Linked DNA regions of Homo sapiens. The protein of the gene in region 1 purifies or fractionates together with the protein of each later gene. This does not show direct contact. Each region holds a gene or a part of one and is shown on either strand. Other genes may lie near its edges.

Region 1 (4,156 bases):
TTTAAAAGAAGTTGGTATTTGAGCCTTAAATGTTAAAATATGATTACTGGCTATTTATATTATGAAACTCCTTTTTTTACATTTATCTAAGATTAATATTAGTCACTTTCTATTTTGTAGAATGTAATTATATCTAGTGCTGCAGAAAGGGTAAGTCTAGCATGAAGTACTTTGTTTTCATCTTTCAGGTTATAAAACTTTTCAGTTTCTAGGGGATAAATTAAAATAGTAAATGAATATTTGTTGCATTTTTTTCTATTTTAACTGCATTTGCTCATTGTAATTGCTAAATAGTAAAATTTATCCCCACTTTCTTTAGGCTTCAACTTTTGTTTATATAATCAGTTTTTCTTTTATACTGTTACAAAATGCCTTTCAAGCTTCTCTTATATTTTCAAAAGCTATGAAACCCATCAAAATTATAAGGACTTAAATTTATGTAATTTTTTTATTTTTGGATACTTAAATTTTCTATTAATTTGCTATAAGTCATTGAAATGTTATAAATAATTTTCTCATATCTACTCTTTGTTCATTTTATTTCAGCCTTTAGAAATAAGAGGGCCATATGACGTGGCAAATCTGTATCCTTTTCTGAGTAAAAAGTTGTTGACATTGTCTTTCAGGAAATTTTGAATTTGAAGTCGTATTATAGTTGAACATGTATTTTTCTCAACCTTTTACTGTAAGTTTACCAATTAATAACTTCAAAAATAAATTATATAACATTATAGAGAGCTTTATGCTTCTGTTTTTTAATTAATCATGAGATAGAAAAGAGGGAATGAGGGACTTCATATGATAAAAGCTTAGAGTTAAATGAGTCTTTTCTCAGATGCATGTTCCAGTTGGACTAAGAACTGCTGTTGAATTAATTAGCCTCTCAAGATGACCAGGTTAGCTGGCACTTTCTGTTATGTTTGTGTTAGTCTCGTGTCCTTGGGTGACTCTGGGTTGAAATCTTTAATGCTCCCCCAAGAGGCTTGCTGTTTGGGCTCTCTGAAAGTGACGCCAAGGCTGCGGTGTCCACCAACTGCCGAGCAGCGCTTCTCCATGGAGGTAAGCAAGTTCTTCCAGTACAAACTGAATGGTCATGTTAAAAGCAAGTCATTTTTACAGCCATACCTATTTTTATTGCCCTACCCTACAGAGTTCCTTTGGGATCATCTTTTCTCAACCTGTTCTAAACACAGTCATCAGTGTTTTCTCACCCTCACTTCAGGCTTTACTTTCTAAAGTTTGTAGAATGAATATAGTTTTCATTACAGAAATAAGTATTGAATAGTTCTTCCAGCTATACATGTGTGCTCCTGCCGACATTTTGATAGGCTTCTAATCTCCCTTCCTTCTTCTCCCTCACCAGAAGGCCATGCTTTCCCTGTTGAAAATCTCTGTTTTAGAGAACGGATATGTTAAAAATATGTGTTAAACTATTTATTAGGAAAACAAAACCAGCAAATACATTTTTAAAAATCCAACTAACAAAACATAGACTGTAACTTTTACATTTATTATAACTCAGAATGTTTCTTTTCTCATGTTTGCTTACATGGTCAAGTTGTGTCCAGACTGTACCTTTTTTATTTTTTTTTCTTTTTCTAAATAGAGACAGAGTCTCACTATGTTGCCCAGGCTGGTCTTGAACTCCTGGGCTCAAGCAATCCTCCTACCTCAGCCTCCCAAAGTGCTAGGATTACAGACATGAGCCACCATGCCCGGCCAGACTGTACATTTTTTACTCACATTTTGTATATGTACCTTTTCACTGACTGAGTTTCCTGCTCATCAGATGTTAAAAATTGAAAGTATGCTGAAACTTTGGAAAATGAAAGTGAAATTTTATTAAAACAATTTAAGCTTTTGATCACTGTTTTGTCTTCGTTATCTTTATAATTCTTAGGACTAGTTGTAGTGGTTAAGAAGCAATTTCATTGATATCACCCAAGTGAATTTTAAACTTCAAAGTAGATTGCTACATATAGACTGAGTTATTTGTCATATGAATAGCTAGGTTATTGAGGGCTTGTGTGTTGGGCTTTATTGATCTGATTTCCACTTGAGAGAACTGCTTATGTATTGGCTTGCCGTAAATTAGATGATTTTGCTTTTAGTTTCAACATTTTTAGTTTGAGATTTTTGTATTATGTAGCCTAGAACTCATCACATAAGCTTTGGGAGTGGTCAAATTAATGGAGATTTTGAATAATGATTTTCTTGAAATTAGGGAACAGTTGGTTCACACTTTGATAGTTCTGTCATTATTTTGATCTATTTTAAATAAACATTCATCAGGATTTTGAGTAACAGTTGGGGTTCCAAAATGGACTAAACAAGAAACAGAAACTAAAATATAAATACATACATAATTTTATATATAGGAAAATAGGAAGTCCTGCATTTGACTTTAAGAACTCAGCTATTCAGCATATAACACATAATATGTAAAGTATTTTTTTTTAGAATTTCTTTTTGTGGGTACATAGTATGTGTATATATTTATGGGGTACTGAGATATTTTGATATAGGCATGCAATGCATAATAATTACATCATGGAAAATGGGGTGTCCATCCCCTCAAGCATATGTCTTGTGTTATAAACAATCCAATTATGCTTTTTTAGTTATTTTTAAATATACAATTAAATTGTATTGACTATGGTCACCCTCTTGTGCTATCATATACTAGACCTTGTTCATTCTATTTTTTTTGTACCCATTAACCATCTTCACCTCCCTCTCAGCCCCCCACTACCCTTCCCAGCCTCTGGTAACCATCCTTCTACTTTCTGTCTCCAGGAGTTCAGTTGCTTTGATTTTTAGATCCCACAAACAAGTGAGAACATGTGATGTTTGTCTTTCTGTGTCTAAAATCAGGCTTTTATAGAAGCTAAACTTAAAGAAGACTTGTGAACTTTGGGTGGCATTACCATTCACCCCAGTGTACCCAGGACAGTTCTAGTTTATGCCTGCTGTTTCTGTGACCTTATTAGCACTTCTATTCCCTGAAGAGAGTCCTAAACTAGATGATAAAATATGGTTACCCTGGTTTTCGTTGCCATTGGGATCAGTATGAGACGGTAGTATGATGTGTTCTTAAGATTGCTAATTCAGCCTAGGTAATATTAGAAGAAATAAAGGATTCTGAGACAAGGAAATTCAAAGCCTCGTTATTATACTCTCATTGATGAAATCTCAGCCGGCATCTGTATCATTCTGAGTGCCACATTTAAGAAGGACAGCAGTGCACTGAAACACTATTGGAAAATGTCTACTCAGTCCTTAAAGGGTCTGGAAGCCTCATGATGAGAGGAATCACGAGGGTGGTGCAGACATGGATACCTGGCAAGCAGAAGAGTTGGGACACATGGTAGTTAGCTTTCAACTTGGAAGGCTTGCCACAGGAAATCAGAATTAGGTTCTTTGGGGGTCCAGAAATCTAGAAACCAATGAATAGCAATTCTGAGGAGGTTGTGGGGAAAGGACAGAGGAAAGAGGCCCAAGGTCAGGGTCTTTGGCCTGTGATTGATAAAGTTCATGCCCTCAATCAGCCCCTGGACCAAAATGAACCTGTTGGGGACACCTGCCTTAGCCCCTTGTGAACAAAATTATTCACTCGTAGATAATCCTTTAGATTTTCCTTGGCAAGATGATTAAAGGAAATACTATATGTGAAAACATTTTATAAACTAAAGCATACACAAATGTAACGTCTTGCTGTTACCAAGAAATGCATTTATTTTTAAAAGACACTAAAGAAATTAATGCATTTTGTTAAAAAGTGCTGATTTTCATAATGTTTATATTTCAGTTGATTTTTAGACTATGGGTACAGAATCAGTGACATAAATTAATAGCTATAAGTGTGACGTTTTTCATTTGGTGAAATGGAAATCATTGACAGTTTTTATTTTGAGGTTCTTATTATGTTGGCATTTTAATGACCTTGAGAGCAGTTTTATCCCTTTTACAAATAAAAGTGTTTTAAAATAATTGGCAGAGTAGATTTACTAAGTTAATCTTGATAAATGGGAAAATAATGCTTAACACTTTATGGTTGACTTTACGTTTATTACTTGAAATAAGGAATAATTCATAGCTAAATTTCTGTTCAAGTTCTTTTGATTCTGCCACCTTTGTAGCTAATGGGTATCTCTCT
Region 2 (4,297 bases), on another chromosome or scaffold:
TGGGAGACCCACTGCTCCAGGGACCAGGCCAGCAGAGGTGGACGTCCTCTCTCCAGCCTCCGACAAGGGAGGACTCCAGTCGTTTCTATTGGATCCAGCCCACGCAGAAGCCAGAGCTGAGTTGAGCAATGAAACTGATACTTCCTTTGCAGAGAGGAGCTTCTATTTAAATTATGAAGAAAAAGACTCAGAAGACCAAGTCCTCCCTCCACCCCTGGAGGAGAGAAAAGGGCGCCTGGATGCCCCTCCCGGAGGTGAGCCCAGGCCGACGCTGAATTCCTTAGACCTGAGGGTTTCTGCTGCTGCTTCCAGCAGGAGCAAGGACGAAGCCCACATGACTTCCCCAAAGGAAGGGGCAGGGACCCCCAAGAACCATGGAGGACCTGGTGACCTGAAGGGATCTCCCGCAGGACAGACGTTTGCTGAAGGCTGGGAAGATGCCCAGTGGGGAGTGGAAGGAGAGTTTCCCCACCTGACAGCCAGCGCAGCCCGAGAGGAAGGGACCCCCGTGAGTGGAGATTTGCTGGGAAAGGCTGAGGAAAGTCCCACAGAGGAACTGAAGAAGCACCCTCCTCACAGAGGACAGGGCGTGCATCCCGACCCCCAGGCCTGCGCCCTTCCTCGGGCCATCCCTCTGAATGTCAGGAAGCCAGTCAAACCAGACAGAGGCAACTTCCCACCCAAAGAGAGGGGAGTGGTTCCCACCCAGAAAGGAGGGGCTGAGCTGAAGGACCGCGAGGCTTCAGCATTTCTTCACATGGAGGTGATCATTCCCCTGCCAGCCTCCCCTGGTCATTCTGAGGACCTGGCAGCTCTGGAGGAAGCTTCTCCAAGCCCAACCTCCCATGGGTCAGGGGAGCCTTCGGAGCTCAGGGAGCCCTTTCTTAGACATGTCCATCTTTCGAAAGCCAGCCCAGAGCCCAAGGACCAAGTAGGGTTTGTGGTGTCCCCTGCCACAGGAGGTGAGCGCAGGCCTCCTCCCATCACCAGCAGAAAGCCCAGAGTAGTCCCTGAAGAAGCTGAGGGGCGCATACCTCTGGGGTTTGGGTTCCCTTCAGGGAAGCGAAGGGAGATGACCTCTTTCCAGGCTGGGGACCAAGAGGGCTCCCTAGAAGATATTAGCAAGACCTCAGTGGCCAACAAAATTCGGATATTTGAGACCCACGGAGCTGAAACTCGCCGAATGAGTGAGGGTGAAGCAAGGTCCCTTCCAAATGACGTATCTTCAGAGGCACCCGTGGGACAAGCAGAGCAGCAGCGGAGTACGCTCTCAGACCTGGGCTTCGCCCAACTCCAGCCCCCAGGGGACTTTGCCAGCCCCAAAGCCACACATTCCACAGTGATACCTCTGGCTACCAGACACTTCAGGGAGGACACTTCTGCATCCTACCAGGAAGCACACACGGAACTAGAGCCCGTGTCCCCCAATTCAGGCTGTGAAACCACGCTGGCAGAAGCTACTGGAACTGGGGTAACTGGCCGCGTGAGCCCCCGCCCCCACCGCTGCTCCCCGCCCATGGGGGCTGGCCGCATGCTCTGTAGTTTTTAGAAGCATGTTTCAGTGGCCCCTCGTCATTTCTGCAATCAGAGGCTGCTTATCCATCCCTGTGAGTTTTTTCCCTAAACGGGCCTGGGTGTAGCTCAGGCTGAATGATGGGCTTCTCTGCTTGGCCCATGTTAGCTTGGCCACAAAGACCCTCAGCTTTTGGTGTGACCTGGTGCCCAGAGGGTCACACAACCCCCATGGAGAAGGTGGCGCCACCACCAGCAAATGACACACCTGCTTTGCCTTGCCGCTCATACCCGCTGGGTTCCTGCCTACCTTGCTTGGCTTGTCCAGCGATCTTTCTTCATCCTTTCCCATCCCTGGTTCTCCCGCCTTGGGAAAGTTGACAGTCCAGAGGTTTCCATCCTTCACTTCTGGTTCCCTCTCAGTCCCAGTGCCAAGTTTCTTTCTGCCTCCTTAAGACTAACTGTCTTCTCTAATCCAGAACAAATCCGGAGATGCGGTCAGGGAAGAGAAGCGCTCCACCAACTTAGCAGCCAACACCCCTGGGAAGGGGGGGCGCCTGAGATTTGCCAGCCCCTCGGGCCCTCAGGTCTCTGCAGCCCCTCTGTGCCCTGATGACCCAGTCACCTTCACCCGGCCAGGATGCATCGCCGCCTTAGGTTCCCACCTGCTGTGGCAGCACCTCTCGTGCTGCTCAACTCTGGCTTGTCTGGAATGTCTCCCTCACACCTCTCAACCTTCCAGAAACTGGCTAAATGGAGGCTCGCTTAGCAAGTGAATGTCTAAGCCCACTGAATCCCTAGAACCAGAAGCCAAGTTCTTTACAAATCTTTCATGGGTATTAGGTTGGTCTTTAAAAAGAATGTTATGAACCAGCCAAAAATGTGTGTGTGGTGTTTAATCCCTGACAGGCCAGTTGAGAGGTATGTATGTCGGACAAGAGTTGCTGGTTCCCCGAGGCACTGCCTTGGCCCGCTGTTGTCAATTACACTGATGGGACCAGAGCCTCTACTCCCTGACTTGCCTGTGGTCCACTCATGGAGCCCAGGGTGGAGCTGGCGTAGCACTCAGCTCCCAAGAAGCTCGTGCCCAAAAGGCCTGACCCTGAATTGCTCTTCTCTCTAGTCGATGCTGACCCCTCCCCCGGAGACTCAGTGGAATTGACAAACATGTTGGCTTCCTCTTTTGTTCCTCAAAGTTCTTGGCTCCAACCTCTCTGCCTTCCCTTCCTGGGTCTCCCTGAATCCCTGGATCTCCCTCCTTAGTTTCTGTTTCTCAACGCCCACCTGCACGGATGGGCCTGGGGTCCGGGCTTCCATCCCTGCCTTTCGTGCAATGCTGCTTCCAATAAGCTCCCAGATCCAATACCCTTGGATGGAGCCTCCTGTCCAGGAGTCACTGGCAGGACGTTTGCTTTGTACTTGCTTTTGCCATCAGTGTGAGACCCTCAGAAAGGGGCATCTCCACTCTTGAGTCGTTTTTGTTTTTTTTATGCTTGTTATGATTTCAAGGAACCTTTCCTGGGGTGTTTTTCATTTCCTGGCCTGCTCTTCCATTCAGGATGTCGACACAGCCCCGAGATTTCTCCTGACATTCACCATCTTGATTTCTCTTTCTCTCTCTCTCCCCACCCCACATCCCCATTCTTTTGATTTTATCTGGCCATAGAGAGCAGGGCTGAGGGAGGGCTCCGAGGAGAAAGTCAAACCACCACGTCCCCGGGCCCCAGAGAGTGACACAGGCGATGAGGACCAGGACCAGGAGAGGGACACGGTGTTCCTGAAGGACAACCACCTGGCCATTGAGCGCAAGTGCTCCAGCATCACGGTCAGCTCTACGTCTAGCCTGGAGGCTGAGGTGGACTTCACGGTCATTGGTGACTACCATGGCAGCGCCTTCGAAGACTTCTCCCGCAGCCTGCCTGAGCTCGACCGGGACAAAAGCGACTCGGACACTGAGGGCCTGCTGTTCTCCCGGGATCTCAACAAGGGGGCCCCCAGCCAGGATGATGAGTCTGGGGGCATTGAGGACAGCCCGGATCGAGGGGCCTGCTCCACCCCGGATATGCCCCAGTTTGAGGTACAGTGGAGCTTCCTCAAGAGCCAGGCCCGCTGGGCACCGCATGCTCAGAGGGCCCTGGGCCACCCGTGAGAAGACCGAGCACCCAGCCTGCAGCCTGAAGCTCTGTCTCGTGTTGCATGACTGCCCCTCCGCAGAACAGCATGGTTCTGTGCTCGCATGTTTGCCATCTCGGTTTACCCCTAACACGCGCTCCTTGGTATTTTAACCCTGTGACCCCATCGCTTGCTGAAGTCGAGCGATGACAGGTAGTCTGGTCTTTCTTGACCCCATGCCCCCCCACCTGTGTTGCATGGCACCTGCAGAGAGCATGCGTCTGTGGACTCTTGGGGGCTCCTGCAGCCTGGTCTGAAAGCTGAATGGTTTTTCCTGATCCGGGCCCAGGCTTGTCTCTCTGGGGTCTGGGCTTCCCGGGGAAGGGGAAGCAGTTTAAATCCATCTGGCCCTGGGGTCTCAGGGTGGTAATGGAAGCTCCTGGAAGAGAGGAAATGTGGTCATTGAGGAGGGACAGACTGTCTCTGGGCCTCTCTGTGGTCTCCTCTGTAGAGCTGTGAAGGGATTTCTCTAAGGCACGCCTGCCCATATCATTCCTTTGCCCCCTCATCTCTTCTAGACCCAACCTCCCTCCTACACTCTCCTTTCCCCAACATTCCTGGCATTGAAATATGAGCTTAGCCACTCTGGGCTCTCACTTCATGCTATATTCTC
Region 3 (4,297 bases), on another chromosome or scaffold:
TGTTTTTCCCTGTCTTTCATGTCTGAACAGTTTTAAAGAATAGAGGCCTATGTTCTATACAATGACCCTCAACCTAGAAATCTACAATATTTCCTCATGGCCAAACATACATCATGAACTCTCAGCAAAAATTCCCCAGAAATGGGGAATTTGGGAGGCATACAATGTCAATTTGTCCCACCTGGTCAAGTTGAAGTTTACTGTAAAAATACCACTTTCTTGTTTTGTAGTCAACTGAGTCTTTTGGAGGGAGATATTCAGAGATTATGTCAATACCCTGTGTCTCATAGAGGCTCCACCTGCCAGCTTTAACATCCTTTGATGACTCCTGTCTAAATTAACTGCCACTCTGATGGTTGCCAAATGGTGTTTTTTCTATTTATGTAATTCCTTCTAGATTCACAAGTAGGCATTTTACACTTTAAAAGAGAACTCCCATCTCCATATTTTTTGTTCATTTCTATCAGTATGGACTCATGGATTCCTATTTTATGTAACAGGTTAAAACCAATTACCATCATCATTTATTTTTATGCTCAAATTGTCCCAGATTTCAGCCACTTCAACCTGGGAACTCCATCATTTTGACATATCGACATCATTTGTTGAATATTTCCTTACTCTCTGGCACAAAAAGATGGTCCAGGCTCATCTTCTGCATTCCCTGACCTAATCCTTTTAGAGAGCATGGTATTTAGAAACCAATGTCCAGGTACTTGGTATGATCACTGCTACTAGAACATCATAGTTTTTTTTTGCCGGGGGGGGGGGGGGGGGGGTAAGGTCACAGATCAACAGGATAAGAATTTTTCTTAGTACAGAACAAAATGAAAAGTCTCCCATGTCTACCTCTTTCTACACAGACACGGCAACCATCCGATTTCTCAATCTTTTCCCCACCTTTCCCCCCTTCTGTTCCACAAAACCGCCATTGTCATCATGGCCCGTTCTCAATGAGCTGTTGGGTACACCTCCCAGACGGGGTGGTGGCCAGGCAGAGGGGCTCCTCACTTCCCAGTAGGGGCGGCTGGGCAGAGGGCTCCTCACTTCCCAGTAGGGGCGGCCGGGCAGAGGCGCCCCTCACCTCCCGGACGGGGCGGCTGGCCGGGCTGGGGGCTGACCCCCCCACCTCCCTCCTGGACGGGGCGACTGGCTGGGCAGAGGAGCTCCTCACTTCCCAGTAGGGGCGGCCGGGCAGAGGTGCCCCTCACCTCCCGGACGGGGCGGCTGGCCGGGCGGGGGGCTGACCCCCCCACCTCCCTCCCGGACGGGGCGGCTGGCCTGGCGGGGGCTGACCCCCACCTCCCTCCCGGACGGGGTGGCTGCTGGGCGGAGACGCTCCTCACTTCCCAGACAGGGTGACTGCCGGGACGGAGGGGCTCCTCACTTCTCAGATGGGGCGGCTTCCGGGCGGAGGGGCTCCTCACTTCTCAGACGGGCGGTTGCCAGGCGGAGGGTCTCCTCACTTCTCAGACGGGGCGGCCGGGCAGAGACGCTCCTCACCTCCCAGACGGGGTCGCGGCCGGGTGGAGGTGCTCCTCACATCCCAGACGGGGCGGCAGGGCAGAGGCTCTCCCCACATCTCAGACGATGGGCGGCCGGGCAGAGACGCTCCTCACTTCCTAGATGGGATGGCGACCGGGAAGAGGCGCTCGTCACTTCCTAGATGGGATGGCGGCCGGGCAGAGACGCTCCTCACTTTCCAGACTGGGCAGCCAGGCAGAGGGGCTCCTCACGTCCCAGACGACGGGCGGCCAGGCAGAGACGCTCCTCACTTCCCAGACGGGGTGGCGGCCAGGCAGAGGCTGCAATCTCGGCACTTTGGGAGGCCAAGGCAGGCAGCTGGGAGGTGGAGGTTGTAGCGAGCCGAGATCACACCACTGCACTCCAGCCTGGGCACCATTGAGCACTGAGTGAACCAGACTCCGTCTGCAATCCCAGCACCCCGGGAGGCCAAGGCTGGCGGATCACTCGCGGTTAGGAGCTGGAGACCAGCCCGGCCAACACAGCGAAACCCCGTCTCCACCAAAAAAATACGAAAACCAGTCAGGCGTGGCGTCGCGCGCCTGCAATCGCAGGCACTCGGCAGGCTGAGGCAGGAGAATCAGGCAGGGAGGTTGCAGTGAGCCGAGATGGCAGCAGTACAGTCCAGCTTCGGCTGGGCATCAGAGGGAGACCGTGGAAAGAGAGGGAGAGGGAGACCGTGGGGAGAGGGAGAGGGAGAGGGAGAGCAATCCTATTTTTTTAACTAAATATGAGAACATCATAGTTTTTAGGCTGCCTTAGGAGACAGCTAGAAAATATGTGTATGTATACATATACACATACTATCTCTATCTATTTGTTCATATATATTGTTTAAAAAAAGTCATGATTCATAATAACACCAATTCCAATCCAATACCTTAGAGTTTTTTCTTGCCTTCCCCCTTTCCATGGTTATAAATCCCTCATCCAACAGTGAGAAGCATAACTCTTATTATCCTTAATATATTCATTCATTTGCTCAATCTATTTACTTATTTGCTCAACATAACCAATCTCCCAATCACACCAGCCCCTGTGTGTTTGCTGCCCTATTTATCACAGCTGTCTTCTTGTTGGAATGCTGATACCTCCATGCCTGGTAAAGAATGGAGGGGAAGGGAAAGGAAAGAAATAAGGATGGGGAGAGAAAAATAGGAAAGGTGGGGAAAGGAGTGAGGGGAAGATGGGAAAAGGCAAGGGAAGGGAAAATGGGAAAAGAAAGGAAAGAAAGGGAAGCAGACACTCACCTTTAAAACACCTTCCACAGCCATCTTCCCTTCATGACCTAGTAAAATACTATATGGATAAAGCCACTGGATTGCATGTTTGATTGGCATCATAGGAAAGGAATCCTATGTAGGAGCAAAAATACATAGGAATGAGCAAAATTCAAAATAATCACAGAAAACATCTGAAATGTACATATGACATTAAAATTGACTTATAAAAGTAACCAATAGGTGTCTGGTATTTTCTGTAAGTCTACAAAAGCAAATATTCATTATTTTCTCTTCTCATTCCTTGCCCTTTCTCTGGGTAAGCTTACCCATTCCCATCTTTCATTTATCTTCTATGTATTGATGGCTCCCACACTTCTATGTCTGGTCTTGACTTCTTTCTTGAGCTCTAAACCTGAACCCTCAATTGTTCATTACATGTGACTATATGAATATCCCATAGACCCCCATTTGAAACAGAATACATGTCTCTACCTTATTCATCCCAAAGTACCTGATCCCTTTTTATTCCTAAGTTAATCTCATCCACATTCACTTAGCTTCACAGTTATAACTACAAAATTAGAAAGTATTCATTATCCTCAAATCCTTCCTCACATTATCTGCACTGTCAATTCTGTTCACCCCACTTTAAAAGTCTGTTGACAAGAAAGATTAGTGAAATTTCAATATGAACTATCTATTAGATGATACTATGGATTACTGTTAACATGATATGAAGTGTGATAATGTTGTTCTGGTTATGTAGAAGAATGTCCTAATTCTTAGAAGTTGCATACTGATATGGTTTGGCTGTGTCCCCACCCAAATCTCATCTTGAATTGTAGCTCCCACAATCCCCACGTGTCATGGGAGGGACCCAGTGGGAGACAACTGAATCATGGAGGCAGTTAACCTCCATGCTGTTCTCATGATAGTGAGTTCTCATGAGATCTGATGGCTTTATAAAGGGCTTTTCCCCTCCTTCACTCTGCACTTTTCTCTCCTGCCACCATGTGAAGGACGTGTTTGCTTCCTCTTCCACCACGATTGTAAGTTTCCTGAGGCCTCCATAGCCTTGCAGAACTGTGAGTCAATTAAACCTCTTTTCTTTATAAATTACCCAGTCTCAGGTATTTCTTCATAGCAGCGGGAGAACGAACTGATACACACACTGAAGTATTTAAGAGTACTGACTGCAATTTACTTCCAAATGGTTCAGGAAAAAAAAAAAGAAAAAAGCACATGCAAACAAATGTGGCAATATATTAATAATGGGTGATTGTAGGTGAGGGGATTATGAATGTTTTACTGTTTTTCAACTTTTTTTTACATTTGAGAATTTTCAAAGTAAAATGTTCTAAGCAAAAACAAAAGATTTCATAAGAATTTTCAAAATAAAATGTTCTAAGCAAAAACAAAAAGATTTGATAAAAGTATAAGATTTGATAAACAGGAGGAGAAATTCTGTTCTGGATGTATAGAACAATGTCAACAATACCTAGGCTCCCTGACTCACATGAAACATACATATATACATACATACATACATA
Region 4 (4,297 bases), on another chromosome or scaffold:
AGTATAACACCAGGCGGCTTCCGTCCTTCACTGTCAAGACACTCTAAAAAATGTAAGACAGCCCTAATATTACTAACACTAGAAGCGCAGGTCAGTAATTATTGTTGTACCCAAGACTAGCTCGCTAAGAGAAGTAAACTTATAATTATCCCAGCTACATTTTCACTACTAAGGTTTCCATCCAGCAGAATGCATTCACCACAGCACAAGCACATTTATTACCCTTTTGACAGCAGGTGGTCTGGACACAGTGACAGGCTATAGAACATATCTTAGTGTTTCATTAGGGCCTTATTGTGACCATGGGAGCTTGGCACTATTTAATTCTGGCTAAACTCCAGATCAATAACTTGTTAACGAAAGAAACTGTCCCCCCAAGGGGCTACCAGAATAAAAAGTTACCAACCTCAGCTTGTTTGCACCACACGCTGATGTTCTTCCGCTGGGCTTTTGTGAAGTGGTCCCATGCCTTCTGCTTGGAGGCGGAATGGTACACAGCCACTATCTGCTCAACTGCAGCATCAAATCAGCAGTTGGATCAGGCCAGGGTATCATCCAGGGATGGAAAAAGAGAGGAGAAAAGAAATGAAATAAAAGAGAAGCATCAGGCTTGTTGTATCTTGTTGTTATGACACTATACTAAGCTGTGGTTGTGCTTGGAAAAGGCTACATGTGTTGGGGTACTTTGATTTTAAAGGAGACGCAAAGGAAAAGACATCAACATACAGAAAGACAAAAGGGAACACCAGAGGTTTGGGGTAAAATGGTAACAACTAGAGTTTTAATACAGGCATTGTGAATTCATGGAGGCAGGAGAGGAAGAGTCATAGCAAATGCACTTTTATTTAGTACTTGTCTTTAGTTTAGTACTAGTGACTCCACACAGCATGGAAGAAAATGGCAAACTGTACCAGAAACTCTCTACCCCTGGCTCCTTTCATAGCCCTCTGACACACACTTGGATGCCTTGCTTCAACAGAATTCATGCTTTTACTATTCTGAGGTATGTTTAACAAGAAGCATCAAATCAAAACCTAAGATGGATTGAATCTTTTTTAAGTCTACCAAGATAGACTCGTTGACTGGAAAAATATAAGTTTTAGGGAAGGATGCTGTGTAAGTGCGGTCCTAGAGAGTATTTTTCAAGGTCTCTTAAAATGTCAAACAGGGAAATGTGTGCAGATGTTCTGGGGCTTTATCCTAATCACAGTTCAAGAGAGGGGAAGCTTAGACATGACTCCTTTGGGAAAAGAAAAGCAGGACAAGAGCCCCTGTCTGGTTGGGTGTTCACAGTAAGAAAATCCAGAGGTATTATTTTTTTTTTCTTTACATCCCTGTTTGCACCCTGTCTTCTAATGACTTAAGGATTTATAGTCCCATGATGCGTGCTGCTTTCTCTTTTTAAAAATTTATCCTAAAGTCCTGAAGACATGTGCTTTTGCCTCCTGGATTTTATGCCCATATATACTTTCAAAATACAAGTGGCAAATGGAACAACTCCCCCTTAATCACAATTATGTATGAGTCAAGTACAGGGAAGTCAAGTTTGGAAAGAGTGGACCATAATTGTTTAAAAGCAAAATCATAAAATTATACCCTTATTCTTAAGGTGAATATACTTTCTTACTGAAAAAATAAGAGTGTATAATTTTATAATGTGGTAAACAAAAAATTACTTGATAATTTATCTGATCTGGCTCATTTCAGAGACCTTAGATAGGTTTGGAGCGGAATTTCTTTTTAAAAATGGCCATTTTGGTAGCTTCTCACCTTGTCCCAGTGTCTATGACATCCAGCAAAGGTAGCAGAAGAAAGTAAACTAAATAAAAAATGTAGAAGTAGCAAATTTGATTTTTATCCAATCACCTTGGGAAATATAATTACATTGATCATTGAAATGGAGTTTCTTGAAGGCATATTACATGATGATAATTATACAAATCTGAAGAAAAGCAGCTTTAAAATGCTGATGCTACATCGTAACTTTAGCAATAAAATACCCAGCCCTCTATTGAGGCCCAGGGCTGTAGAAGTATAGGATGTGGCCTAAGGATCAGTGTTTCTAAGGAGTTGAAGTAGATATACCAGAGAAAATGAAGCTAGCAGGTGCGCACATGTCTCCTGTGAAATTGGAGCTTGGGCATTTGACAATATAAGGAGAGCACAAGGCAGTGAAAAAGGGAGCCTTGAGCCTTAACACAGGATGGCTCTGGAGGCCTGAGCTCCCATAGAGAGCAAGTGACTAAGTGAAGTGACTTATTCTCATTCCAGCAGAACTCTAAGTTCCACTCACATTGAATGAGAATTCCAGAAAGGGCCTGCTTGAACTTCTCCTTTGCTTCTTCCATATCTTTCTCATGGGCAGCTTTCTCGTTCACCAGGCGGCGGACATGGCTGTTGGCCGACTGGATCATGGAGTAGAAGTTATTGGCGCTACGACGGTTGACCTCTCCTCGCTCTATCCAGGTAAGCAAGGTCTGTACAGCTTCTGAGAATTTGGAATCATCTGAAAAAAATATATTTTTATAACCAACAAAGGTAACCAAATTTTGATCTATTTTCCCAACATGCTGGCAAAGAGGGCATCATGATTTTTGGCAGTGATGGGTAAATGAATTGCTGAGGATGAGGAGCCACACATACACACATGTGCACACACAGGCAGTAGGCAGGCAGACAAACAGGAAGAATGGAAGGATCAATGTAGTCAGACTGGTTGTGGTCTGTGATGAATTTTCAGAAAGAGAAATGTTTCCTTGAAAAAAGTTTTCTGTACTGATATATAGGTTTCATGTATTGCAAATTTCTTACCCTCTCTGATTGTGTGTGTGTGTGTGTGTGAGAGAGAGAGAGAGAGAGAGAGAAGGGGGAAAGGGGGCAGAGGGGAGACAGAGAGACAGAAAAAACCATGAATTAGTGAGGGAACTTCAGAATTCTACAGTCCTGTGTTTTAATGAGGAAAAGCAAACTTGAATCCTGAGTTTAACTTGAATTTAACAGTAACTTTACCTTGGATCCATGGAATTACAGTGTTGGGAGGAGCCTCAGGGAAGAGTTAATTAAGTAGGTCATTCTTTAGATACAAACATGCACATCTTCGACCTTTTATAGTATCACTCCTGTGTTCAATCCACAGCCCCAGGCCTTCCACTCAGTCCCACTCACAATCTATTTTGATGCAATTTATTTTATTTCTATATTTCTCCACATCCTTTTTTCTCTTGCATGAAGAACCTCCATGTAGATTTCTGCAGCTAGTTAGGAGTTATTCTGTGATTAGTTAAGATAGTAGCACAGCTCTTCCAAAGCTTCTGGTTCAGCTCCCCAAGATAGCCACTTATGCCTTCTGTTCTTAAAGGCTCCAGAGAGGGAGAGTACATTTGGATCTATTGAAGCCCAATTCAAGGGCTTCACATCCTTCTCTGGCTAGAAACCCTTATGTTAAATGGAAATTTCCTTCACTGCAGTTTGAACTTCTTGCCTCTTGCCCCTTTTTCAGTGCAGACATATAACAAGCAGTCAGCCTCCCCTTTATAGCAGCTTTTCACTTTATTACTTAGATATAGACTTTATGTTGATGCTCAGTTTTTGCTTCTCTTGAAGGTCACACACCCATTAAATTCATTTTTTTAAACTTAAACTGATTTGTTTGGTGTTGTGTGACTAGGCAAGTCTTGGACCTGGCGTCTTACCAATGCTTTCAGCCTTTCCAGTTTTTCAAAATGTACCATTATTTCTGTGCCTCTATTCTGGACTCTAGGTTTTCTGCTTTTCCCTTAAAGAAAGTCAAAACCAATTTCTTACATGTGTGAATCCCTTAGGCTATGTGGTACAAACATGTCTGGTGAAGGAGACCTATTTGGAAAGTAGGGTTAGCAGTATCTTGATGAGTTGAGAACACAAGAAGCAGGGAAAATTCATACCATTAGAGCTGGATTGGTGTTACCAATAAGATCAATGGGACACCAGCATTCATCCAATAAAATCATCTATACTCAGAAAATGAGAAAGACTGGATTTGAGCTACTAAGACAGGAGACCAGGCAGAGCAATTAATGTTAAATTAACAAAATGGCTGAGAGTCAAACAAGGGGAACAAGAATCAAAACTAATGGGAAAGCAGTCTGATTAAGCAATGTCTACACGTTTCCACAGTCACTGTTTTAAATAAACTGGCCTTTTAAAGTGATTTAAAAGTCTTTATGTTTTAGTTGGTGGTGGCTAAGTCTTTGAGTCATCTAAGAAGAATGTACAGCATGACTACTTTCTGGACCTCCATTTTCTCATCTTTAAAACA
Region 5 (4,297 bases), on another chromosome or scaffold:
TTATCAGATAAGGGATTGGGGAAGATGCATTTTCAACCTCATTTTGACCCCTCTTGTGGCACAGACATTTCCATTATGTGTAGTGATTATTTCAAACCTTTATACTCACCTCATGCTCACTGTACCCACTCACATCCCCCTCACTTTCAGCCGATAACCTTGTTTCCTACTCCACGTAAATATTAGAGGCTAAAAAGCCTGAATCCATTCCTTTGTATCATCTTTCACTTCCTTTACCTACATATTTATTGTTATTTCTTACCTTTTTTTCATGTCATCCATCACTGAAGATTTAGTATTCTTGTTTTCTGTCCAAAGTAGTGTGGTATAATACAAAGATCACTGGATTTTTAAGTAAGACCTGGATTTCAGTTTTGGCTTTGTAGCTTACTAATTGTGGGACTGGCAAAATTCTTAAAGCCTTTACCTCAGAGTCCTGCTTTTCTAGGAGGGAGGTAATCCAGCTACCTAACCCAAAGGCCTGTATGACAATTAAATGAGAATGTGTATACTAGGTCTAATACACAGTAGGCCTTCTTTCCTTTCTTTTCCAGAACATTGCTCTGTTATCTTCTTTTCCAGTAGTTCCTTCCCTTCAGGTTATAAAAGTGCTGGGTCACTTTATCGAAGTCTTTTTGCATTTATAGCTAAGCTTTTTGAAAACTCAGACCGTGCTAATGTCTCTGTATCTTCACCTCTTATTCAATCTCAAATCCATTGTAATATGACTTCTGTTATCACTGTTATCATTGAGGTTCTCAGTGCTCAGTAACCACCTAATTGACAAATTGGTTGGACTCTGGTTAGTTTTGGTGAAAGCAAGGTAATTTCTAAGGTTAACAATTTGAAGTTTGAGAAAAACTAACATATAGAACATGCTAAGAAATCAGGGATGAATATTACTGAGCAGCAGTAATACCCAGTTCAAGTTAGCATGAAATTGTAGTAAACCAGATTAGGATGGTTCTATGATGCATTCTGTTAACTTTCTGAAGCCAGGGAATTGAGAAAGCAGAAGTTGTTCATGGTTGGACATGGTGGCAGGATAAGTGATCTGGGAGATTTAATATTAGTAATGACAAGACTGGGGAGAAAATATATTCTAAATGTTGGCAGAAGATAATAGAAAGCCTGTTTATATTTTAAGCTACATATAAGAAAGGGGGCCAGGCGCAGTGGCTCATGCCTGTAATCCCAGCACTTTGGGAGGCTGAGGCAGGTGGATCACATGAGGTCGGGAGTTAAAGGCCAGCCTGGCCAACATGGTGAAACCTCGTCTCTACTAAAAATACAAAAATTATCCCGGCGTGGAGCACCTGTAATCTCAGCTTTTAGGGAGGCTGAGGCAGGAGAATTGCTTGAACCTGGGAGGCAGAGGTTGCAGTGAGCCAAGATCGTGCCACTGCACTCCAGCCTGGGTGACAGAGTGAGACTCCATTTCAAAAAAGAAAAAGAAAGGAAGGGAAAAGACAAGGTGGACTGGGTATTTGAACTCTTTTCATGGTCCTGCCATCAGTCCACATAGTGGAGTTTAGGTGTAGTCTGTTTAAGAATGTTAATCTCCCTGCATCTGCTGGTTTTTGGGTCATAAGCTTGAGTTCAGAGCTAAACAACTTGAATTCTTCTCCTGGGGATTTGGATTATCGTGGTTTGGTTAAGTAGGCTCAAACCATTAGGCTGGTATTACAACAAGTTTGGCATAAATATGTAAATGAATCAGGATATTGAGTCTTAATGTAAGTTTAGGATTGAACTTGATTTTACAGGATTATTTGATCTTTTGTACCTAAGTATTAACACAAATTTGCTATTATGAGGGTTAAGAGTATAGATGCTGGAATCAAACTCCCTGGGTTTATACCTGCTTCATCACTTACTAGCTTTGTGACCTTGGACAAATCATTTGATTAGTTCCCTAATTTGTAAAATGGTGACAGTAGGAGTAGAATCTCATAAGGTTGTTGTAAAGATTAAAATATGTAAAGTGTTAAGAACATTGCCTGGCACATACTAAGTACTATGTAAATGATTAGCTGTTACTGTGTTCTTATAAATAGCTTCATTTTTAAAAACTACTTTTAACCCTTTCATCAGATTATTGAAAGTATTATTGAGGAGAGTCAGAAAGTACTACAGCTTGAAGATGACTCTTTGGATTCCAAAGGAAAAGAACTCTCTGATCAAGCTACTGCCAGTCCTATTGTGGCTAGAACAGATCTGAGCAATATACCCGGACTGTTAGCCATAGATCAAGTACTACCGGAAGAATCCCAAAAGGCAGAGAGTCAGAATACATTTGAAGAGACTGAATTAGAATTAAAAAAATGCTTTCCTTCTGATGAAACCTGTGAGAAACCAGTAGATGAAACCACGAAGTTAACTCAAACAAGTTCAACTGAGCAGCTTAATGTGCTTGAAACTGAAACAGAAGTATTGAACAAGGAAGCAGTGGAAGTCAAAGGAGGTGGTGATGTTTTAGAGCCTGTGTCCTCAGACTCCTTATCTACTAAAGATTTTGCCGCTGTGGAAGAAGTGGCCCCTGCCAAACCCCCAAGACACCTTACTCCAGAGCCTGATATAGTGGCTAGTACAAAGAAGCCTGTTCCAGCACGCCCACCTCCTCCAACTAATTTCCCACCTCCTAGACCCCCACCTCCTTCTCGACCTGCTCCACCACCAAGAAAAAGGAAAAGCGAATTGGAATTTGAGACTCTGAAAACTCCTGATATAGATGGCAAGTATTAATTGAGAAATCACTCTGTTGGTTGGGCACAGTGGCTCACGCCTGTAATCCCAGCACTTTGGGAGGCCAAGGCGGGCGGATCGCTTGAGCTCAGTTCAAGACCAGCCTGGGCAACATGGCAAAACCCCATCTGAGCAACAACAACAAAAAAAAATACAAAAGTTAGCTGGCCATGGTGGCACGCGCCTGTAGTCCCAGCTACTTGGGAGGCTGAGGCAGGAGAGTTGCTTGGGCCTGGGAGGCAGAGACTGCAGTGAGCCAAGGTCGCGCCATTGCACTCCAGCCTGGGTGATCAGAGTGAAATCTTGTCTCAAAAAAAAAAAAAAAGAGAGAAATAACTCTTTGTGGTGAAATTTTGGAGTTGAAACTGTTTACCTTTCTGCCTTTATTTCACTTTATTAAAAAACTCACTGGCAACCAAGTTATTAAAATTATTTCTTTAGTAATAGACAAAATGTAAAAATGTTTACATTGGTGAAAATTACTTTACTGTAATTGAACACTTCAGCAGACTTCAAACTTTCAATTCTGTTGCCATCTGAGAGAGAGTGGCATGGTGAAAAAAACTTGGGATTTGGAGACCTAAAGTCTGAATTCAAGTCCTGCATCTTTTTTTTGTATGAGCTGTATAGTCTTGAGGAAATTAAATAACTTGTTTGAACCATGGTTTCCCTGTATAGGAAATGAGAGTAATCAAGCCACTTTCCTCACAGGGTTGTTACAAGAATCAAACAAAAAGGGTTGTTATTATTGTTGTTATTATTATCATTGCAGTTCCCAAAGAGAATATTACGTCTGATTCTCTCCTAACCGCAAGCATGGCTTCAGAAAGTACGGTTAAGGATTCTCAGCCTTCTCTTGATTTGGCAAGTGCTACCAGTGGAGATAAAATAGTTACCGCCCAGGTTGGTGAATTAGTGTTCTGTTTCATATAGACTTTATCAGCTCCCTGCAACTGGCTGGTTTGTTGATGATTATTCTGTATTCTCCAGGCCAGATTTTTCTTTGTCCTCCAAACCTGACCCCCTTACTTCTCTTGATCAGCTCTGCTACATGCTAACTGGGTGAGCCTAGCAAGCTGTTTAGCATCTGGATCTCAGATGCCCCATCAATAAAATGGAGGAAAAGTCCTTCCTTGAGGGTTTGAAATGAGCTAAAATATGCCAAGTATCTAGCAGGTAATAGGTATTCAAAAAACGACAGATGCTACTATTTGTAATATTGTTGGTACTAATAAACACCAACTATAGTCTATGTTTGTCCTGTATTGGTCAGAATTGAAGACTTTTTTTTTTTATAATTTCCTTTTCCTAATCATAGAAAAACTTTATATGCTAGGAAGCGGGCTACACAAAAGACTTGATAACACTAATTTTACCACAGCCAGATTCTGGGACTCAGAGCTACTTACATGGTAGCTGTGGTGGGCCAGGCTACCACACTAGAATATAGGACACTATAGTCTTGTTATAGCCTTAGAGCAGGGGTCAGTAGTGGCCTGCTTTAGGAGGTTCCCCAAGCTAAGAATGTTCTTTACATTTTTAAAGGTTGTTT
Region 6 (3,279 bases), on another chromosome or scaffold:
AAATTAGCTGGCCCTTTGTGTATTAAATTTTATGTATTATATCATCTTAGCAATCAACCGCTAGAAATTAGCTGGCTTTGAGTGGTGTATTAAATTTTGTGTATTATATCATTTCAGTAATCAACAGCTAGAAATTAGCTGGCCTTGAATGGTGTAATAATACATCATTTCAACAGTCAACATTACATTTCATGAGCATTATAAAATAAAAAGCAGGCCTGGCACAGTGGTTCACACCTGTAGTCCCAGGATTTTGGGAGACCAAGGAGAAGAGGATTGCTTGAGGCCATGAGTTTGAGACCAGCCTGGGCAACATAGCAAGACTCCATCTCTACGGATAATTTTTAAAACATTAGCCAAGCACAGTGGTGCATGCTGGTAGTCCTAGATACTCCAAAGGCTGGAGCAGGAAGATTGCTTGAGCCTAGGAGTTGGAGGCTGCAGTGAGCTATGATGGTGCCAGCGTACTCTAGCCTGGGCAGCAGAGTGAGACCCTGTCCCTAAAGGGGGGTGGGGGGTGAAGTAGGCATTTGTTTTGGGAAACTTACAGGATTCAGATCATTTTATAAAGTCAGTGAAATGTACATGAAGTGTATAAATTCTAAACAACTGAAGAAATGAATTGAAAGAAATGACTGGTGTCCCACTGTCTGAGGACCAGTTTTTGAAATCAGAAATGATCAAGATAGGGGATACTGAATAAACCATGCAGATTATAATAATACTTAAATTACATTTGCCCCAAGTGGGCTGAATCTAAACAATTTTATTCTAAATTTTTTTTGTTTAGAAAATGTTTTGAGGAGTTTTCCAAAATGAAAGTCTTGGGTAAAACAAAACCAAAAAAAGCATATCTGGTATGTAGCACTTACTGTCTTCTTTTGCCATCAGCAGAGGAGGGCTAAAGATTAGTAATACTTTCAAATCAAAATTCTGGCCTTGCAGTACACATGTCTAACTTGAGCACTGTTTTATGATTATGTTTCTTTCAAATACTATAAAGTGATAACCTATTCCTACAGCCTAGAAGAAGTCCAAAGTGCCCTTTACAACAAAGAGATGGAATGCCTTAGAATGACTGATGAAGTCGAACGAACCCAAACTTTGGAGTCTAAAGCATTCCAGGAAAAAGAACAACTGAGATCAAAGCTGGAAGAAATGTATGAAGAAAGAGAGAGAACATCCCAGGTGTGCTAGTGTGTTGGTGTTTTCATGATACTTAGAACACTCAAATGAATAGAACTAATTAGCGTAAAACTCACTTTGTGATTGGGTGTCCTTAGTTCAGAGTTGCTTTATTGTATGAAGAGTTGTGAGGCCTTGAAAGCTGGGATTCTGGACTCTCTGACTTCCTGTGCTCCTGGAAGGCAAGAAATAATGTGACTTTAAAAGAAAATTAAGACCTACTTCTCATTTTTCCCTCCTTGGATTGATTACCTGCAGGAGATGGAAATGTTAAGGAAGCAGGTGGAGTGTCTTGCTGAGGAAAATGGAAAGTTGGTAGGTCACCAAAATTTGCATCAGAAGATTCAGTACGTAGTGCGACTAAAGAAGGAAAATGTCAGGCTTGCTGAGGTAAACCTAAAAATTATTCTGAATAAATTCTGTCTGGTTTAAAAATGATTATTTTATTGAAACCAAATTAAAACTTAATTATTGAATCAGTTAACTGCTTACTTCAGGGAGCTTCCTGAATTAAAAAAAAAAAAAAAGTTGGTCGTTGCTATTCTGAGCCTAATTCAATCAGTGGCATTTCATAGACAGCAGATTCTTGTTTAACGTTTAGTTTGCACATTGAAAATTCCAGTCTTAATTTGAAATATACACCTAATAAATGCAAAAAAAAACCACTTCCTGTAAGAATTAGAGCCTTATTTTTTTTCTTTTTGTTTTTTTAAAATTACTTAGGAGACAGAAAAGTTGCGTGCCGAAAATGTATTTTTAAAAGAAAAGAAAAGAAGTGAATCTTGAGGATTCCGGTCAGCTACCTAGGCATCACCTTGTTTGAAGATGTTTCTTCTCTTTTACAAGTAAGACCTACTCCTGGCCACTTAGGAGAGCTGAATTTATGGACCTTAATTATTAAATGTTTATAAGGTGGTGGTAACCACCTCAAGTTTCTGATGAACATTCTGCATCCATATACACCCTGTGACAGTCAGCAGTCTGCTATTAAGTGGCCTACTTCAAGGCTTTGAATCAACTTAAGGGAAAACCTTTTGTCTTTGTAAAAATAAAAGCCTGTAGCTAAGGTTTACAGTGGACATTAGCCAGATCATTTTCTTCTTAGATTATGCCATAATCTCCTTTGATTCTTATGGAAGTTCTAACAATATATGGTGGTTCCAACACCTGCAGTGAGTTTAATGACTGACTTAGTAGCAGGTACAAGAAGCAAACTTGTTAATATAGATTATTTTTGTATTCTTACTTTAGGTATTTTCTTGAGCATTTTCCATGACTGTAAATAAAGCCATTTTTTAAGATAATAATTAAAGTGACTTACATTGTTCATTCTGTTGTTCATTGAACACATACTTAATGAACACCTGCAATATGCCAGGCACTAATCATCAGTGAACAAAGCAAATCTTGCCCTCAAGGAACTTCTGTGTATTGGGCCTTCTTTCTTTTTTATTGAGACAAATATTCCATTTTATGGATATGCTACACTGTCCATCCAACAGCTGATGGATACTTGAATTGTTTCCAGTTTAGGACTATTATAAATAATGGAGCTATAAATGTTCATGTGTAAGTCATGGTGTGGACATATATTTCATATCTCTTGAGCACATGCCTAGGAGTAGAATTACTGGGTTATCTGAAAAGCATGTCTTTACTTTTTAAGACATTGCCTGTTTTCCAAATTTACCATTTAGGTATACCATTTTACATTCCTACCAACAGTGTATTCCAATTTCTCCACATTTTCACCAACACTTGTTATTGTCAGGTTTTTTACTGCAGCCATCCTAGGTGTGTAGTTATATCACTTGCATTTTCCTAATTACTAATGCTATTGAACATTTTTCCATATTATGGAATATTACTTGGCAATAAAAAGGGAACATGCTACAACATGATGAATCTCAAAAAAATGCTAAGTAAAAGAAAAACCAAACCCAAAAGACCACATATTATATGTTTTTATTTCTATGGCAGGTCCAGAAAAGGCAAAATTATAGAGATAGAAAGTAAATCATTGGCTGCTTGGAGCTAGGATGGGAGTGGGAATGACTGGGCACACGGGAACTTTTTGAGGTGGTGGAAATGTTT
Region 7 (4,297 bases), on another chromosome or scaffold:
CTGCCAATGGCATAGGTGATTATAAGACTTGAGTACCCATAACAATTTGTTTCAAATGAATACTTTCAGAGGAATGTTTGTAAATCAGAATTTTTCTTAAAATGTGATCAATGTAGTTGTTTTAAAATAGAATTTTTAGTTGTTTTTCTGACTCCAATTAGAAAATTGTTAAGTGTGAACCTTTTTATATCTTTAGGAGCTGTTTTGGCCCACAAAGGATATTTTCGTGAAGCTCGTGATGTATTTGCCCAAGTAAGAGAAGCAACAGCAGATATTAGTGATGTGTGGCTGAACTTAGCACACATCTATGTGGAGCAAAAGCAGTACATCAGCGCCGTTCAGATGGTAATAGCTTCTCTTTCAAGATATTTTTATATCTTGTTCATTGTTAAGCAGATGTTTTCTTAGCCATTCTGGCCCTGTCATGGAGCTGCATGCTATCTCTTGTGATACTGTGTCTATTTAGAGATTTATAATTATATAATGCTAAGGCCAGGCTTTGGTATCCAGACAGAGATGTGAGTCCTGGTTCCACCACTAATTACATGCCTCAGGCAAAGGACATCCTTTCTGAGCCAGTTTTCCTATCTATAAAATGGAGATAATTGTACCTTAACTTCATAGAATTTTGTGAGGATCCCGTATGAAAACTACTTGGCACTAGCATGCCTAGCATATTAGTAATACCCAGTAAGTAGTAGGATTGAATATTTATTTGTGTATTCAGTTTCTGAAACTGAACTGTGAGTTTTAGAAAGGTTAAATGACTTATTTAAAAGAAAACAGGCCAGGCATGGTGGCTTACTCCTGTAATCCCAGCACTTTGGGAGGCTGAGGCGGCTGAGGCGGATGGATCACGAGGTCAGGAGTTCGAGACCAGCCTGGCCAACATGGTGAAACCCTGTCTCTACTAAAAATACAAAAATTAGCTGGGCATGGTAGCACGTGCCTGTAATCCCAGCTTACTCAGGAAGCTGAAACAGGAGAATTGCTTGAACCTGGGAGGCAGAGGTTGCAGTAAGCCAAGATCCTGCCACTGCACTCTAGCCTGGGCGACAAAGCCAGACTCTGTCTCGGGAAAAAAAAGAAAAAAGAAAACAAAACAGCGATAAGATTTAATGACTGTAGAATTTTTTTATGCTTACATTTGTTGAGTGCTTGAGCTCGAAATAAAAGTCATACTCAGCATCCATAAAATTAAAAAGTAAAAAGGATCTTCGGCTCTGTGGGATATATTATGGTCAGAAAGGAAAAGCTTACAAAAAGTAGACAAAAAGAGCAGTCCAGGCTCCTGAGAAGTGGTTTACCTTTTTCTAAAATGGGTGGGTTATTACCAATATTCAGAGTACTGGAAAGTCAATAATCACAGAAACTCACAGAACCTAGATTGCATATGGAGCTTCAGAGGTTGTGTTTTGTGAGGCTGGCCTTCCTGATCTGCTGAATGATAATGTTGTCTTTTATAAATGCAAATTAACTACTAGGGATATTCAGGAAAAAATGGTCTTAACCATTTTTCATGAAAAAGGTCTTACCTATGACAAGAGGTATTCCATGGTCAAAAAGTGCTATGTTCATGTCACAATTAACACTAGTATTGTATTGGTTTTACCAAGAAGTTAACAACCAGAACTGTAAGACTCCTCATGCTCATTGCCAGTAGGTTCTGCCCATTGTTAAGAAAGGTGTAGATGGTAAAACGCAAAGGACAACGGTGTATGACTTCTCATCAGTGGTCAATAAGCTGATTCTAGATAGTATTGCTAAAAGTATGAAAAAGGCTTTCCAGTCTGTTTACCCTTTCTTTCAATGTTGGTCCAAATTTCAAATGGAAAGAAACCATTTCAAGCATCTAGTTTTTCTAATGGTCAGATTTTTTATGTTGTGAAAATGTATCCTGATGAATGTCAAAAATCATTCCCCAAATTATTCTCTGAAATTAACCATTCAAAGGGTAAAACACCTTTTTACAGAGCTTTAAAATTGCAATGCCATTTTGCTACAAAATGAAAATGTCATTTATTCTTTGTTGTGTTTTAATTAACTTTTTTCTTTTACTGTAGTATGAAAACTGCCTCCGAAAGTTCTATAAGCACCAAAACACTGAAGTTGTACTCTATTTGGCCCGGGCCCTCTTCAAGTGTGGCAAGTTACAGGAATGCAAACAGACTTTGCTGAAGGTAAAAAGGAGAGATGTTATTCCCATCCATTTCTGTGCTACATTGTATTTTTTAATTCTTCGTGATGCGTGTTCACATACCTACTACTTAATAATACTCTGCTGTCTAAGATCCTTTTCATGTCATTTGAACATATGAAATATTTATTTTTTATTCACAGGCTAGACATGTGGCACCCAGTGATACAGTTCTTATGTTTAATGTGGCCTTGGTCCTGCAAAGATTAGCTACCTCTGTCCTGAAAGATGAAAAAAGTAATCTGAAGGAAGTACTTAATGCTGTGAAAGAACTGGAGCTTGCACATAGGTAAAGATTTTGTAGAAACAACCTATGAAATGCTTTATTTGGTCTATGACCATACCATCTTGAACTCTCCCGATTTTGTCTGAAATGCTTTGTTTAAAGCTATTTGTCTCAAGCTGCTGAAAATCACTTCCTTCTAAAGGTGGTCTATTAGAATCATTCCAGCAATAGTTAAGCCAAAGCAGATAGCAGCTGCCACCAGGTGGTGCCAAACTATAGTCAGGATCCTGCCAGATTTGGATCTTGTAGCTTGACCTCTAGAACTGGCTGGCTAGCTTTGCAAACTTGCCATAGATTTTTTATTAATCTGACAGTAATGTGACCCAGCATTTTACACATGTGAAATTTTTTGGACACTTACGTTGGTCTTCCATTTTACACCAATGTGTCTTTTAATGGGATGTTGATTTTCATTGAACTAGGATTAAGGTTTTACTTCTTAAATAATGCTTAATAGTTTTATTCAGTTCAGCTCAAAATTTATTTAGCCATATAGTATTTATATGGTGAGTCAGTGTGTGGTGAAATTAAAACCTGTCATCTCTTCAGGTTTTGTCCAACTTAATATTTTTATTCTTGTTTAACAATTCTTGCCTTGCCTGGTAAATTATAAGTGCTTTCATGGCCTGAGCCCCGTAACCTCCATCCTGACATATTTAGTAAATTTCATGTTTAGTAAATACTTGTTGCTTGAATTGCTTTGTGGTTATTTGTGAATTTACTGATAATATTAAATATAACTTAGACCATCTTGATGAACGTGTCTATTAAATGTAATGAGTGGCATAAATTTGTGTAAATCAGTCAATATGCAAACCTTTTCTCAGACTTTGTAGCACAGATTAAATTTTTTAAGAGCTTTATTTCATTAGAATCTCTTTTTTTAAAAGTGAAGTATTTTCTCGTTTCATTTAGATACTTCAGTTATTTGAGTAAAGTGGGAGATAAAATGAGATTTGATTTGGCCCTTGCTGCTACAGAAGCCAGGTAATGTTACTATTTATGGAAGGTGACTTTGGGTGAGGCAGTGATATTTACATGGGCTGGGAAAGTGCCACAGTAGGGAACAGAGGTTCCTGACCTTCCACAGGTCAGTCTTTCACACTTCTCTTGGGGACTCTCTAATCTTTGCCAGGACTTTTTCCTTTCAGGGAATTGGACAAAATTGCCTTAGTACAAGTACTTGAGTTCTGGGGGAAAATACTTTTCTATTTTACTTATGTCAGCTATGTCAGCCTAGTCAAGATAAAATTCATGACTCTGAGTTATATGTAAAGATAATGTTGGAAATCTTTTTAGCTGTGCTTTGAGAGGACATTTATAGTTTGGAAACTTAACATAGTTGGCAGTATTGGCTTATGATAAACTAAGTTAATTTTGCTAATTAAGACTCCATACATTGGTATGGTATGGCAAGTGTAATGCAAAAAAAAAAATTTTTTTTGGCTGGGCGCAGTGGCTCACACCTGTAATCCTGGCACTTTTGGAGGCCTAGGTGGGCGGATCAGCTGAGGTCAGGAGTTCAAGAGCAGCCTGACCAACATGGAGAAACTCCGTCTCTACTAAAAATACAAAATTAGCCAGGTATGGTGGTGCACACCTGTAATCCCAGCTACTCGGGAGGCTGAGGCAGGATAATCACTTAAACCCGGAGGCGGAGGTTGCGGTGAGCCGAGATGGCACCATTACACTCTAACCTAGGCAACAAGAGCAAAACTCTGTCTCTTAAACAAAAAAGGAAGAAAAAAAACATTTTTTTAAAAAAAGACTTCACATAGATCAGCTAATGGTCCTGCTTCAGATTTTTTAATTTG

The links.
Region 2: the proteins of RPP30 (region 1) and EPB41L1 fractionate together in Homo sapiens (co-fractionation; one large-scale study listed by BioGRID). This does not show direct contact.
Region 3: the proteins of RPP30 (region 1) and VWA8 purify together in Homo sapiens (affinity purification with mass spectrometry; one large-scale study listed by BioGRID and IntAct). This does not show direct contact.
Region 4: the proteins of RPP30 (region 1) and ENOX2 purify together in Homo sapiens (affinity purification with mass spectrometry; one large-scale study listed by BioGRID and IntAct). This does not show direct contact.
Region 5: the proteins of RPP30 (region 1) and WDR44 purify together in Homo sapiens (affinity purification with mass spectrometry; one large-scale study listed by BioGRID and IntAct). This does not show direct contact.
Region 6: the proteins of RPP30 (region 1) and KIF15 fractionate together in Homo sapiens (co-fractionation; one large-scale study listed by BioGRID). This does not show direct contact.
Region 7: the proteins of RPP30 (region 1) and CTR9 purify together in Homo sapiens (co-immunoprecipitation; one large-scale study listed by IntAct). This does not show direct contact.

Annotation. Positions count from the first base shown.
Region 1 is NC_000010.11:90,895,334-90,899,489, forward strand, and holds part of RPP30 (ribonuclease P protein subunit p30), read left to right. Parts: intron 1-120; coding exon 121-150; intron 151-546; coding exon 547-584; intron 585-979; coding exon 980-1,059; intron 1,060-4,156. UniProt on the Homo sapiens protein: Component of ribonuclease P, a ribonucleoprotein complex that generates mature tRNA molecules by cleaving their 5'-ends. Also a component of the MRP ribonuclease complex, which cleaves pre-rRNA sequences.
Region 2 is NC_000020.11:36,206,310-36,210,606, forward strand, and holds part of EPB41L1 (band 4.1-like protein 1), read left to right. Parts: coding exon of another isoform or gene 1-1,471; intron 1,472-1,991; coding exon of another isoform or gene 1,992-2,099; intron 2,100-3,178; coding exon 3,179-3,589; intron 3,590-4,297. UniProt on the Homo sapiens protein: May function to confer stability and plasticity to neuronal membrane via multiple interactions, including the spectrin-actin-based cytoskeleton, integral membrane channels and membrane-associated guanylate kinases.
Region 3 is NC_000013.11:41,880,613-41,884,909, forward strand, and holds part of VWA8 (von Willebrand factor A domain-containing protein 8 isoform a precursor), read right to left. Parts: intron 2,880-4,297; coding exon 2,775-2,879; intron 1-2,774. UniProt on the Homo sapiens protein: Exhibits ATPase activity in vitro.
Region 4 is NC_000023.11:130,665,237-130,669,533, forward strand, and holds part of ENOX2 (ecto-NOX disulfide-thiol exchanger 2), read right to left. Parts: intron 2,507-4,297; coding exon 2,294-2,506; intron 514-2,293; coding exon 407-513; intron 1-406. UniProt on the Homo sapiens protein: May be involved in cell growth. Probably acts as a terminal oxidase of plasma electron transport from cytosolic NAD(P)H via hydroquinones to acceptors at the cell surface.
Region 5 is NC_000023.11:118,390,538-118,394,834, forward strand, and holds part of WDR44 (WD repeat-containing protein 44), read left to right. Parts: intron 1-2,094; coding exon 2,095-2,734; intron 2,735-3,517; coding exon 3,518-3,648; intron 3,649-4,297. UniProt on the Homo sapiens protein: Downstream effector for Rab11 which regulates Rab11 intracellular membrane trafficking functions such as endocytic recycling, intracellular ciliogenesis and protein export.
Region 6 is NC_000003.12:44,850,765-44,854,043, forward strand, and holds the end of KIF15 (kinesin-like protein KIF15), read left to right. Parts: intron 1-1,022; coding exon 1,023-1,188; intron 1,189-1,443; coding exon 1,444-1,575; intron 1,576-1,908; coding exon 1,909-1,971; 3' UTR 1,972-2,492; downstream 2,493-3,279. UniProt on the Homo sapiens protein: Plus-end directed kinesin-like motor enzyme involved in mitotic spindle assembly.
Region 7 is NC_000011.10:10,768,147-10,772,443, forward strand, and holds part of CTR9 (RNA polymerase-associated protein CTR9 homolog), read left to right. Parts: coding exon 1-15; intron 16-196; coding exon 197-345; intron 346-2,063; coding exon 2,064-2,180; intron 2,181-2,340; coding exon 2,341-2,486; intron 2,487-3,398; coding exon 3,399-3,470; intron 3,471-4,297. UniProt on the Homo sapiens protein: Component of the PAF1 complex (PAF1C) which has multiple functions during transcription by RNA polymerase II and is implicated in regulation of development and maintenance of embryonic stem cell pluripotency.